Regions from separate parts of the Homo sapiens genome. Here region 1 is linked to region 2. The links come from fine-mapping of genetic effects on gene expression. A gene starts in region 2. The other region holds a variant in brackets. All regions are shown on one strand. Distances are between the middles of the regions. Region 1 has its middle 89 kb from the start of PMFBP1. Region 2 holds the start of ZNF19 (zinc finger protein 19).

Region 1 (5,385 bases), 770 kb before region 2:
CCATGTGAAAAATGGTATTGAGCTCTGCTTGGTGCCAGATGGAGCACTAAGGAGCTATTGGGATAGTCTAGTCAGGAGGTAGAGAGCAAGTGTCTGAATGTGAGGAGGCATCATAATGTGGTGGTTAAGAGCACAGGTTCTGAAGCAAATCTGTCTGGGGTCAAATCTCAGTTCTACCACTTACTAGATCCTTCTCTGGAGGACAAAGATGATAATAGTAAGCGCCCCTGCTTGTAGGGTTCCAAGCATTAACTCCATGCCTGAGACATGATAAATGTTAGCCACTATTGAAATCATATTAGAGGACGAGCTTACCAAGGAAGGAAGAGAGAAAGAGTAAAATGCCCATCAGGCAGCTCAGATGTGTATTTGGAACTGTTTGTAATATAAATTGTAGTTGAAATCACTATGAATGCATAAACTCACTGCAAGACTGAGTTCAGAGGAAGGAAAAACAGAGGATCCAGGACAGACAGAGGAGACAATAGAAAAGCAGTCAAGGAAATAATAAGAGAATTCTGTGGACCAGCATATTAAAACCTCAGAGAATAATAAAGCCATACAAAACAGTGGTCACTTGACAGGATATTGAAGCCCTGGATGAATGTCTTCTGTTCAGTTTGCTGAGCTGATTTTCTGCTTACTCTGGCCTAGGCATTACCATCATTTTTGCACGTTGCAGCATTTAAAATAGTATCATTAGAGTAAGAGCCAAATCCCAATGTATAAGTGCCTGTCATCAGTGACCATTAGTGATACATTTTTAAAATCATCCATAGGGAGTTGAGTGTACATCTTTAAATCTTCCGAGGAAGCTGATATGGCAACAACAAGAGCACAACACTTTCTTATAGGGTACCAGAGCCACGTTGCTAGTACCAATTTCCCTGCTTCTCACTGGAGCCTAAAAACAATAAGGAGAAGGAGTTCAGGAAATGAAGACATTACCAACAGCCACAAAACAGCCAGAATTGCTGCAAAAGGTCTGGCGTTAGCCCTATAACAGCTTTGGCTGAGGCTGTACATCTATATGACATGTGGTTATTGTGCCTGACGTTTGGCATGAACAGTGGAGTGCTGGCCTGAGAGTAGAGATAAGGAAAGGAGATGAGGAAGAGAGAGATGGGTGCACAGATTTGCTGTAGGGTTTTGTGTGTTCAATTTCCAACACTGCTTAAAGAATAGGTGTGCAGAACTCCACTTGGTGGTAGCTTAGAGAATGTGCCTTTCTGTGTTTCTCCTTTCATTAAAACCAGTAAGGTTGAAGTTGAAGTATGGAGGCCACTGGGGTTGGGGAAGGGGCTGTGATCTGACCAAGGGAATCAAAGAAGCTGGCTCTTGTGGGTCTTGAGGTAGTGTGTCATAGAAAGGCAGAGCCATTTCATTTATTTTTCTTAAATGCCTTACAGTTCTTAGTCTCTATACATCACATGAGCCAACATTGAAGAATTTGAAGAAAAGCCCTGTGGTTGATCAGTTTCTCTTATAACTAAAGTAACCATGTAACTTCTCCTTCAGACTTTTTATTGAAAGAGCATACAATGAATACTTTTCCTGGGACAACAGGCATAAACTGGACCATCCCAGAATGATTAGAATATGTAATCATTGGCTGGGTGCAGTGGCTCACGCCTGTAACCCCAGTATTTCGGTAGGCCAAGGCGGGTGGATCACCTGAGGTCAGGAGTTCGAGACCAGCCTGGCCAACATTGCGAAACCCCATATCTACTAAAAATACAAAAAATTAGCCACGTGTGGTGGCATACGCCTGTAATCCCAGCTACTCAGAAGGCTGAGGCAGGAGAATCACTTGAACCCAGGAGACAGAGGTTGCAGTGAGCCCAGATCACGCCATTTCTCTCACCTGGGTGACAGAGCAAGACTCCATCTCAAAAAAAAAAAAAGAAGAATATGTAATCATCCTACTTATAACCCATTTCAAAACTTTTTAGTTCATATAGTATAGTGATTAAGAGAACAGACCCTGGAACCAGACTTACTAAAACCCCAGCTATGCTGGCAACTAGCTATGTGACCTTGACAAGTCACTTAACTTCCCTGAAGTTCAGTAATATCATTAGCAAAATAATTGTTCCTACTTTTGAAGGTTATAGTACTAAGTTAATATGGTTAATATGTGGACAGGCACTTACAGCAATTCCTGGTAGATAGTGCAAGCTGAGTGTGTACTGTTCTTGTTATTTCACACACTGAAGAGTAAGCAACCTAATCTTACAGACCTGATGCGCAGCCTTCCTTTCCCATGCCATGGCATGGAGGGGCATTTGGCAAATTATTTATATGCTGAATGAATAAATTAAAAGAAAGAAGGAAGAAAGGAACATGATTTTTATCCTTTACCTACAATTTTTTCTTTATTCTTTATTCTTTCGCTACTTTTAGGCTACTTTGAAGGACAAGGAATTGACATTCACCCAAGAAGCCTTTCAAATGCCTGTTCTAACCTAGCCTTTACTATGCCCTGGGATCCCTTGTATTATGAGCTTCCTCTGGAAGGAAGAGAGATGGATTTGGATTAAGGAGAAAATTAGGCCTAAAACCAACACTGGACTCTCTTCATCATCTGCTTTTCCACCTGCATGCTTCTCCTAAGCTGGCAGACCTTGTTGTAGAAAGTTATGTCTTGTCAATTAAAATTAAATATGTCAATTAGCACTATTGCTACCACCTCAATTAGGCCTGTTAGCAATTCTTTTATTTACTCTCAATCATATTCC[C/G]CAAAGATATCATCTTTCCCATCCCTCAAGCTTGCAGCCCACTCACCCATACATCTCTCTCCCAAGTTGACCTGCTTTCTGCTTTATTGAGATGAGACTTTCTAAGATGAACTTCAATTTCCCCCTTCCACATCCAAGTGATTTACAACCCCTCCTATTATTTCCTTGCCTGTGCCAGAAAGGAAACTGCCCCATCTGCAAACTCCAAAGCTAATTTGCTCCTTAGTCGAAATCCATCTCTTTTCCTTCCAGAGCCCTGTTCCATCAGTTATTCCATTCTGTTTTGTTTTTTACAAGTCTCCCAAATTTCTGGTTTCTTCTCTTTTACATATTAATATACTTAAATATTTTTCTACCATAAAATGACAAGAACAACAAAAAGCTCATCTTTCTCCTTCTTTTCATTACCAAACCTGCCAAAAGAATAATCCATGAATATTAGCCTCTCTCACTCTTAATCATTTCTAAACCCTTTTAAAGTGACCTCTCATACCATTAATTTGAAACTGTCCTCTCCTAAATTACTATTGACATTCTAATCCCTATATCTGATGACTTCTCCTGAGTCCTTGTCCTCCTCAATCTCTCTGCAGCATTTTCTGTCATTGATCACCCTCTCCTTCATAAAACACATCCTTGGCTTCTTTGACTTGGATTGATCTTGGCTACCCTCTTGGAACTCTAATTTATATTTGCCTCATCCTTCTATCACCCTCTAAATGGAGGTGCTCCCCCAGTGTTCAACTCTTCCATTTATGATCACTCAACTCTTGTGATGATTGCAACCATTTCCAGGCCATTGACTATGTCCTCAGTGCAGCTGGCTCCCAGATCTATATTTCTATCCCAACAAATACTGCAAGTTCACATTTCCAGCATTCTGCTGGACATAAACATTTACTAAAAACTAGACTTTTCTCCTCAACACATTCTTCCAAACCAACTCTACCCCCTGGGTTTCCTGTTTCCCATCTCCCAGACTCAAAAATTATTTTTGTGCCTTCTTCACCTAATTAGTCTCCAGGTTCTATCAACTCTACCTCCACCCCTGTCAAATCTAACACTTACTTTCCGTGAGCACTGCCACTGTCCAGCATGTCACCTCTCGTCTCAAATTTCACTGCAACCTGCTACCTGCTCCCATTTCTTCCAATCTATTCTTCCAGCATGTCCTGAATCTTCCATGACTCTCTCTCCTAATAGTGCTTTATATGCTACAGATAAAAGCCCCAAATGCCACCATCTGGGCTCCTTTTTTTCCCAGACGTAATCTCTATAATTGGTCTTTACACATACTGCTCTCCAGCCAATCCAAACTTCACCTTTCAGAATAAGTCCCACACTTCCTACCTCTAGGCCTCATCTTTTTCCCTCTCGCATTAGTTTCCTAAGGCTGCCATAACAAAGCACTACAAATTGGGTGCTTTCAAGCAACAGAAATGTAGCCTTGCCCAGTTCTGGAGGCTGGAAGTCCAAAATCAAGGTGTCAGCAGAGCCATCTTCTCTTTGAAGGCCCTAGGGGAAGAACCCTTCCTTGCCTCTTCTAACTTCTGGTGTTGCTGCAGCCCTAGGTGCTCCTTGGCTTGTGGATACATCACTCCAGTCTCTGCCTCTATCTTGTCATGGCCTTCTCTCCTGGATATTTGTGTCCAAATTTCCCTTTTTTTATAAAGACGCCAGCTCTAATCCAGATGAGTTCATCTTAACTTGATTATATCTGCAAACGCAATTCCCAAAGGAGGTCACACTCTGTATGCACTGAATGTTTGTGTCCTCATCAAAATTTTTAGATTGAAATTCTAACCCCCAGTGCAATAGTATTAGGAAGTGGAGCTTTGGGGAGGTAATTAGATCATGAGAGTAGAGCCCTCATGATGGAATTAGTGTCCTCATCAAAGACACCCCAGAGAGCTCCTTGTCCTCTTTCCGCTTGTGAGGATATGAGAAGATGGTAGTCTGCAACTCAGAAGAATGCCCTCACCAGAACTTGATTATGCTGGTATCCTGATCTTGGACTTCCAGCCTCTAGAATTGTGAGAAATAAATTTCTGATGTTTATAAGCCACTCCGGCCATGGTATCATCTTATAAGTGCACTTACAGAGTGTGACTAAGACACACTTACAGATTCTGGTGGTTAGAACTTCAACGTATCTTTCTGGGGGACACAATTCAACCCATAACACTTCTCTGCAGAGACTTCTCCCTTCATCCAGTTCCATAGGTTAAAATCCTTCCACTGCTCCAGAGTTTGGTTGATTTTGACCTCTCCCAAGAAGTTGCTTATAATCCTCTGAGATAACACAGTATTTTGCCCCTTTTATAGCATAGCTATTTCTATATATCTTCTTTGTGCTGCTAAATTCTAAACCCTTCCAGACATAGGACACATATATCACTCATCTTTGTATTCCCTCCCCCACCCCATGCCTAGCAGAGTGCCTTTTACTCATGAACTTACCTGGTTAAATCAAATTAAAATAAATTTCCTTTTAGATATGAAATTTTGAGCATTCCTATATTTTTGTCACTTAAAGTAATTTTTCACTTTCATCATTAAATCTAAATGTTGGCCAGGCCCAAATAATTTCAATCTGGACTTACTTTTCATTGAAATGTTTCAACATTAAAAACATATCTCTTTCTCC
Region 2 (5,385 bases):
CTGATTGGGGAGAATCACTTGAGCTCAGAAGTGCAAATCCAGCCTGGGCAACATGGAGAGACCCCTACTCTAAAGAAAAAAAAAACTAAATAAAAATGAAACAATCAATTAATTAGAAATGTAGCGAATGTTTACAATAAGTTAGATATGAAAATAAATGATTTTCACATGTTGTTTAATCCTCTCAACAGCCTACAAAGTAGGTATTAATATTGTACCCATTTTATAGGTGAGAAAATTGAAGGCACAGAGAATCTAGGTAACTTGCCCCAAATCACAGTTAATAAATGGAGGCTTGGAAACATTAGTTTGGCTTAACATATTTCAACTTCTTCACTATGAGACACAGAACTACGTATCTGAGGCAGTGATAGAGTGCTTATGTGTGTATACTGAGGCCAAACTATCATGGTTTGAATTCTGGCTCTGCCACATAAGAGCTGTGCATGACTTTGAGCACGTTATTTAATCTTTCTGTGTTCAGTTTCCTCATCTGTAAAATGGGACTCGTGTCATCTTATATGGTTCTTTGGCCCTTATTTCAGAATTTGATGATTTTTCCTCTTACAGTTACTGTTGCTCTTCTCTCTCTCTCTTCCTGAAGGGACTGAGGTCAGAAAGCTTGTGTCCACGGTGTGAGAGCATAGAAAGGCGTATTGGGACTTGGAATACCACTTAGTATATTGTTCTGGAAAGCCAGTTTGACATGGTGGAAATAATCTAGGGTTTAAATCTTAACTCTGATACCTATTATATGCTGTGGCCTTACTGAAACTCTTTGAGTCTTGGTTTTCTCTTACTCATGATTCATTCTGCGTTGAGTGCTTGTATTATCTGTCCCACTCTCCCTTATAGTAAGGGAGTATAATCATATATGTCCAACTCTTTATTCATCAAAAAATGATTATTGATCATGAACTGTGTTATAAACACTATTCTAGAAACTCAGGATACAGTCATGGACAAGATAGAAAAGCCTCTTTCTTGAGGAGTTTACACTCTGCAGAAAGCCTGAGGGTTGCTCTTGAAGACCTGGATCATGGTCCCATTTGTCTGGACTTGTGTTGCTGAAGTCCCAACTGAACAGCAAGTCCAACTAGTCATCCTGGAAGTCCTCAGCTCATGATGAGCTAGCTATTTTAGCACTCTGATCTTCTAAGAACCAACCCTGAACTGCCACCAGGCTTTGCTTATACTATCTAGTCTGGTAGTAAAAAGTGTACAGATGCCCAAACCCACTGAGGTTTATAACCATTTTCAAAGGTTTTAATAAAAAGATTGAATACTGGATTAACTCCAGAGCCTATTCAGGCTCAATTCCTAAGCTATTAATAATCGCTAATATCTAGTGAGTGTAATAATTACTAATATCTAGTGAGTGTTTAGTATGTGCTAGACATTGTACTGATTTACATGTACTAACATCTAATCCTCACAACAATCCGGGGAATAAATACTATTATTATCCTAGTTTTAGAAATAAATGTGACACTTACAGGTTAAGTAATGCACCAAAGGTCACAGAGTGGTCCTTTGGCCTTTGAAACAAAGCATCCTGATGCCAGGCTGTGCTCCTTACCACTATGTCATACTGTTGTAAAGGAGATGGGACTAAGAAGCTCTAAGTCCCCAGTTTGTTTTGTAATTCTGTGACAGTGATCACAAACGTTTTGACAGTCCAGCAAAATCCTGGCCAGAGTTCTCTTTTGTGGACCCAGAAAGCCACAGGCACTAACACTTTAGAGCTATCTCTCTTAGCCCATATGCCCTGCGCTTTTGGCATTTTCTTTATCATTTAGAGGGGAAGGAGGGCAAGGGTCTGAGGAGCCTTGAATGGTGACTTGGACTCCAGGGGTAGTGGCAAACCATTGGAGGTTACAGTGCATGGAATTAAAGACAGCTTGAATGGTATAATCTGACTGGCTCATTTTACAGAAGACAAAAGCTGCTCAGAGACACAAGGGTCTTCCTCAATGGCCCGTGAGTGGCAGAGCTTGTGAAAGGAAGTTGATTCACTGCGAGTGAACCAGAACTCAGAAAGACCAGTAAGCAACCAGGAAACACCGGCCACCATCTAGGCCTGTGGTGATGGCGGTTTTATCACGAATTCCTTCCTGACAATCAACTGCTCCCGGGCAGAAGCGATCGCTTTCTTGACCCACCCAAATGGACAATGACCCAGGCGTGAGGTTCCTGAGGAGAGAAAAAAGTGTGTACAAGGAAAGGAAGAGGATGTCTCCCAATCGGAAACACCGAGATGCGGAAAAGTTGCACCGTAGAAAGAGCAGCCGTGCTCATGACGCACTTCTGGCCTCCAAGCGCCCCACAAGCGTGACGCACTTCCGGCCTCCTAACCGTTCTCGCTAGCGGTGCGCTTCTGGCCTGTTTTGAGTCCGCGCTCAAAGGTGCCAAAGTGCAAGGACCCACAGTTGGGCGGAGCTTGGGTTGGGAGTGAGACAGCATAGCAGTCCAGGCTGGTCCTTTGAGCGCAGCTCAAAGAAGGGGACGGGGAGGGCGTCACTATACAATTGTGGCCGGGTGGGACCTGGGCTGTTTGCTCTTGGAGGCTGTACAGCTGCAAGCTTTGCCGCTCACGAACTGGAGCTGGAGAAAGAGCCCCCCAAGGATGGGAGGATGACAGAAGTGTCTGCAGATGGCACTGCCTGGGCACCAGGAGAGGCAAGGACTCCAGCTGATTCCTACCTCCTAGGGAAGCCATCCCCACTCTTAGTTGGGGCCGGCTTAAGTCTTTAACCAAGGCTCTTGCAGTTGCAGTGTCTGTTTCTTTTGAAGAGGCAGATTTGGAGACCTGTGTCCAAACAAATGCCATTGTCCCATAGTGTTTTTATGTTTTTGTTAGTTTGTTTTGGTTTTTTTGAGACGAAGTCTCGCTCTTGTCACCCAGGCTGGAGTGCAATGGCACCATCTCTACTCACTGCAACCTCCGCCTCCCGAGTTCAAGTGATTCTCCTGCCTCAGCCTCCCGAGTAGCTGGGATTACAGGTGCCTGCCACCACACCCGGCTAATTTTTGTATTTTTAGTAGAGACGGGGTTTCACCATGTTGGTCAGACGGGTCTCAAACTCCTGACCTCAGGCGATCCGCCTGTCTCGGCCTCCCAAAGTGCTGGGATTACAGGCGTGAGCCACTGTGACCAGTCTGAACTCACTTTTAATTTTAGGAGCTTGTTTTGTAGATTCTTTGGGACTTCTTATACAGATAATCATGTTGCCTGCAGATAGTAACAGTTTTGTTCTGAGTTTCGAATCTGTGTGTCTTTCATTTCATTTCTTTTTCTTTTTCTTTTTTTTTTTTTTTTGAGATAGTCTCGTTCTGTCACCCAGGCTGGAGTGCAGTGGCATATTCTCAGCTTACTGCATCCTCCACCTCCCGGGTTCAAGCAATTCTCATGTCTCAGCCTCCTGAGTAGCTGGGATTACAGGCACACACCACCACACCTGGCTCATTTTTATATTTTTAGTAGAGATGCGATTTCTCCATGTTGGCCAGGCTGGTCTTGAACTCCTGGCCTCAAGCAATCCATCCACCTTGGCCTCCCAAAGTGCTGGGATTACAGGTGTGAGCCACTGTGTCTGACCTATGTGCCTTTTATTTCTTTTTCTGGCCTTGCTCTTGCTAAGACTCCCAATATGATGTTAAATAGTAGTGGTAAGAGCAGACATACCTGCCATGTTCCCAATCTTGGAGGGAAAGACATTCTGTCTTTCATCATTAAGTATGTTTGCAGCTGCAAGGAGAGAATAATATTGAATTATATGTCAGTATAGATACTGCAGCACAATATTTAGCTTAACTACATATTTTTTTGCAGCCAAGGCAAAAATGACTTTGTGCATGAAACTTAAGTTCCACCACAGCCTCAGCCTATTTGTGGCTGGGATTTTCAGACATATGGGAGAGAAGTTAGTATTTTCAAGTCAGGATTAAGTAACAGTAAATATGCCATGATCATACACCATACTCTGGGTATCATGATCTGATATTACTTATAGCTTCAGTTAAAGATACTGTAGGAGTTAGAGGGAGAGCTGGATAGTTAGGCTGTGAGGTGACCAGAAAGAAAGGTGGTTCCCATTGGAATCTAAGGAATGGTCAAAGCTTGAAAGTAATTATGTTTGATGGTAGAGATTGTGACAGACATGAGTATGAGTATTGTATTAGTCCGTTGTCACAGTGCTATACAGATATACCTGAGACTGGGTAATTTATGGAGAAAAGAGGTTTAATTGGCTAACAGTTCCACAGGCTGTACAGGAGGCATGGCTGGGGAGGCCTCAGGATACTTACAATCATGGTGGAAAGCAAAGGGGAAGCAGGCACAATCTTCACATGGCCAGCAGGAGAGAGACAGCAAAGGAGGAAGCGCAACACACTTCGAAACAACCAGATCACATGAGAACTCACTATCACGAGAACAGCAAGGGGGAAATCCGCCCCCATGATCCAATCACCTTCCACCATGTTCCTCCCCCAACACTGAAGATCATAATTCAACATGAGATTTGCCTGGGGACACAGAGCCAAAACATATCAAGTATACATTTCCTTAGAGGTGATACATTGGCTGGGAAGACAGGTCAGTGTGAATTAGCTATTATTATTAATGATCTTGAAAACTCTCTGGGAGACTTTCCAGACAAATGAGAGTGGAAATTTTCTTCCTTTCCACTCCCTGCAAAACAAAAATAAGTTATTCCCAACTCTTTTTGTTTTTAATTTTAGTGTTCCCATCTTCTGGCCAAGAATATACTCAACTCTTCACCAAGTAAACATACGGGTTCCCATGTTTCTAAAAACCGATAAAATTAACAATAGAGACTTGTTTTTGTTTTATATCCAGACTTAATGGTCATTTATGTAATGTAAATATCCAGAATAGGCAAATCTATAAAGAAAGTGGTTGTCTAGAATTGGGGGAAGAAGAGAGGTATGTACATGTGTGTCTATTAATTTTCTATTGCTGCTGTAACAAATTGCCATGAGTAGTGGCGTAAAACAACACTAATTTATCTTAGAGTTTTGGAGGTCAGAAATCCAAAATGGGTCCCACTGGTATAAATTCAGGATTTAGACTAAGGAGAGAATCTGTTTCCTTGCCTTTTTCATCTTCTGGAGGCCACCCACTTTCCTTGACCCTTGGCCCCTTCCTCCATCTTCAAAGCCAGTGAGGTTGGGCCAAGTCCTTCTTGTGCTGTCATTTTTGTGATTCTCTTTCAATTCCCTCTTTCACGTTCAAGAACTCTTATGATTACACTGGGCCCACCTGAATAATCCAAGATAATCATCTTTTTTTTTTTGACAGGGTCTCGCTTTGTTGCCCAGGCTGGAGTGCAGTGGCTCAATCAAGGCTCACTGCAGCCTTGA

Evidence for each region. PIP is the estimated chance that this variant, and not a neighbour inherited with it, causes the effect. A credible set is the group of variants that fine-mapping cannot tell apart.
Region 1: its variant is the best candidate, but not a certain one, in a credible set for the expression of ZNF19 in aorta (GTEx, PIP 0.90).

What each region holds. Positions count from the first base shown.
Region 1 is chr16:72,258,078-72,263,462 of GRCh38, reverse strand. No RefSeq gene overlaps it. Among named protein-coding and RNA genes, the nearest start is that of PMFBP1, 89 kb to the right of the region's middle. The variant C/G (reference allele first, on the strand shown) is at 2,739.
Region 2 is chr16:71,486,292-71,491,676 of GRCh38, reverse strand. ZNF19 (zinc finger protein 19) reads left to right here and starts at 2,353. Exons shown (of 6, transcript NM_006961.4): 1 at 2,353-2,405.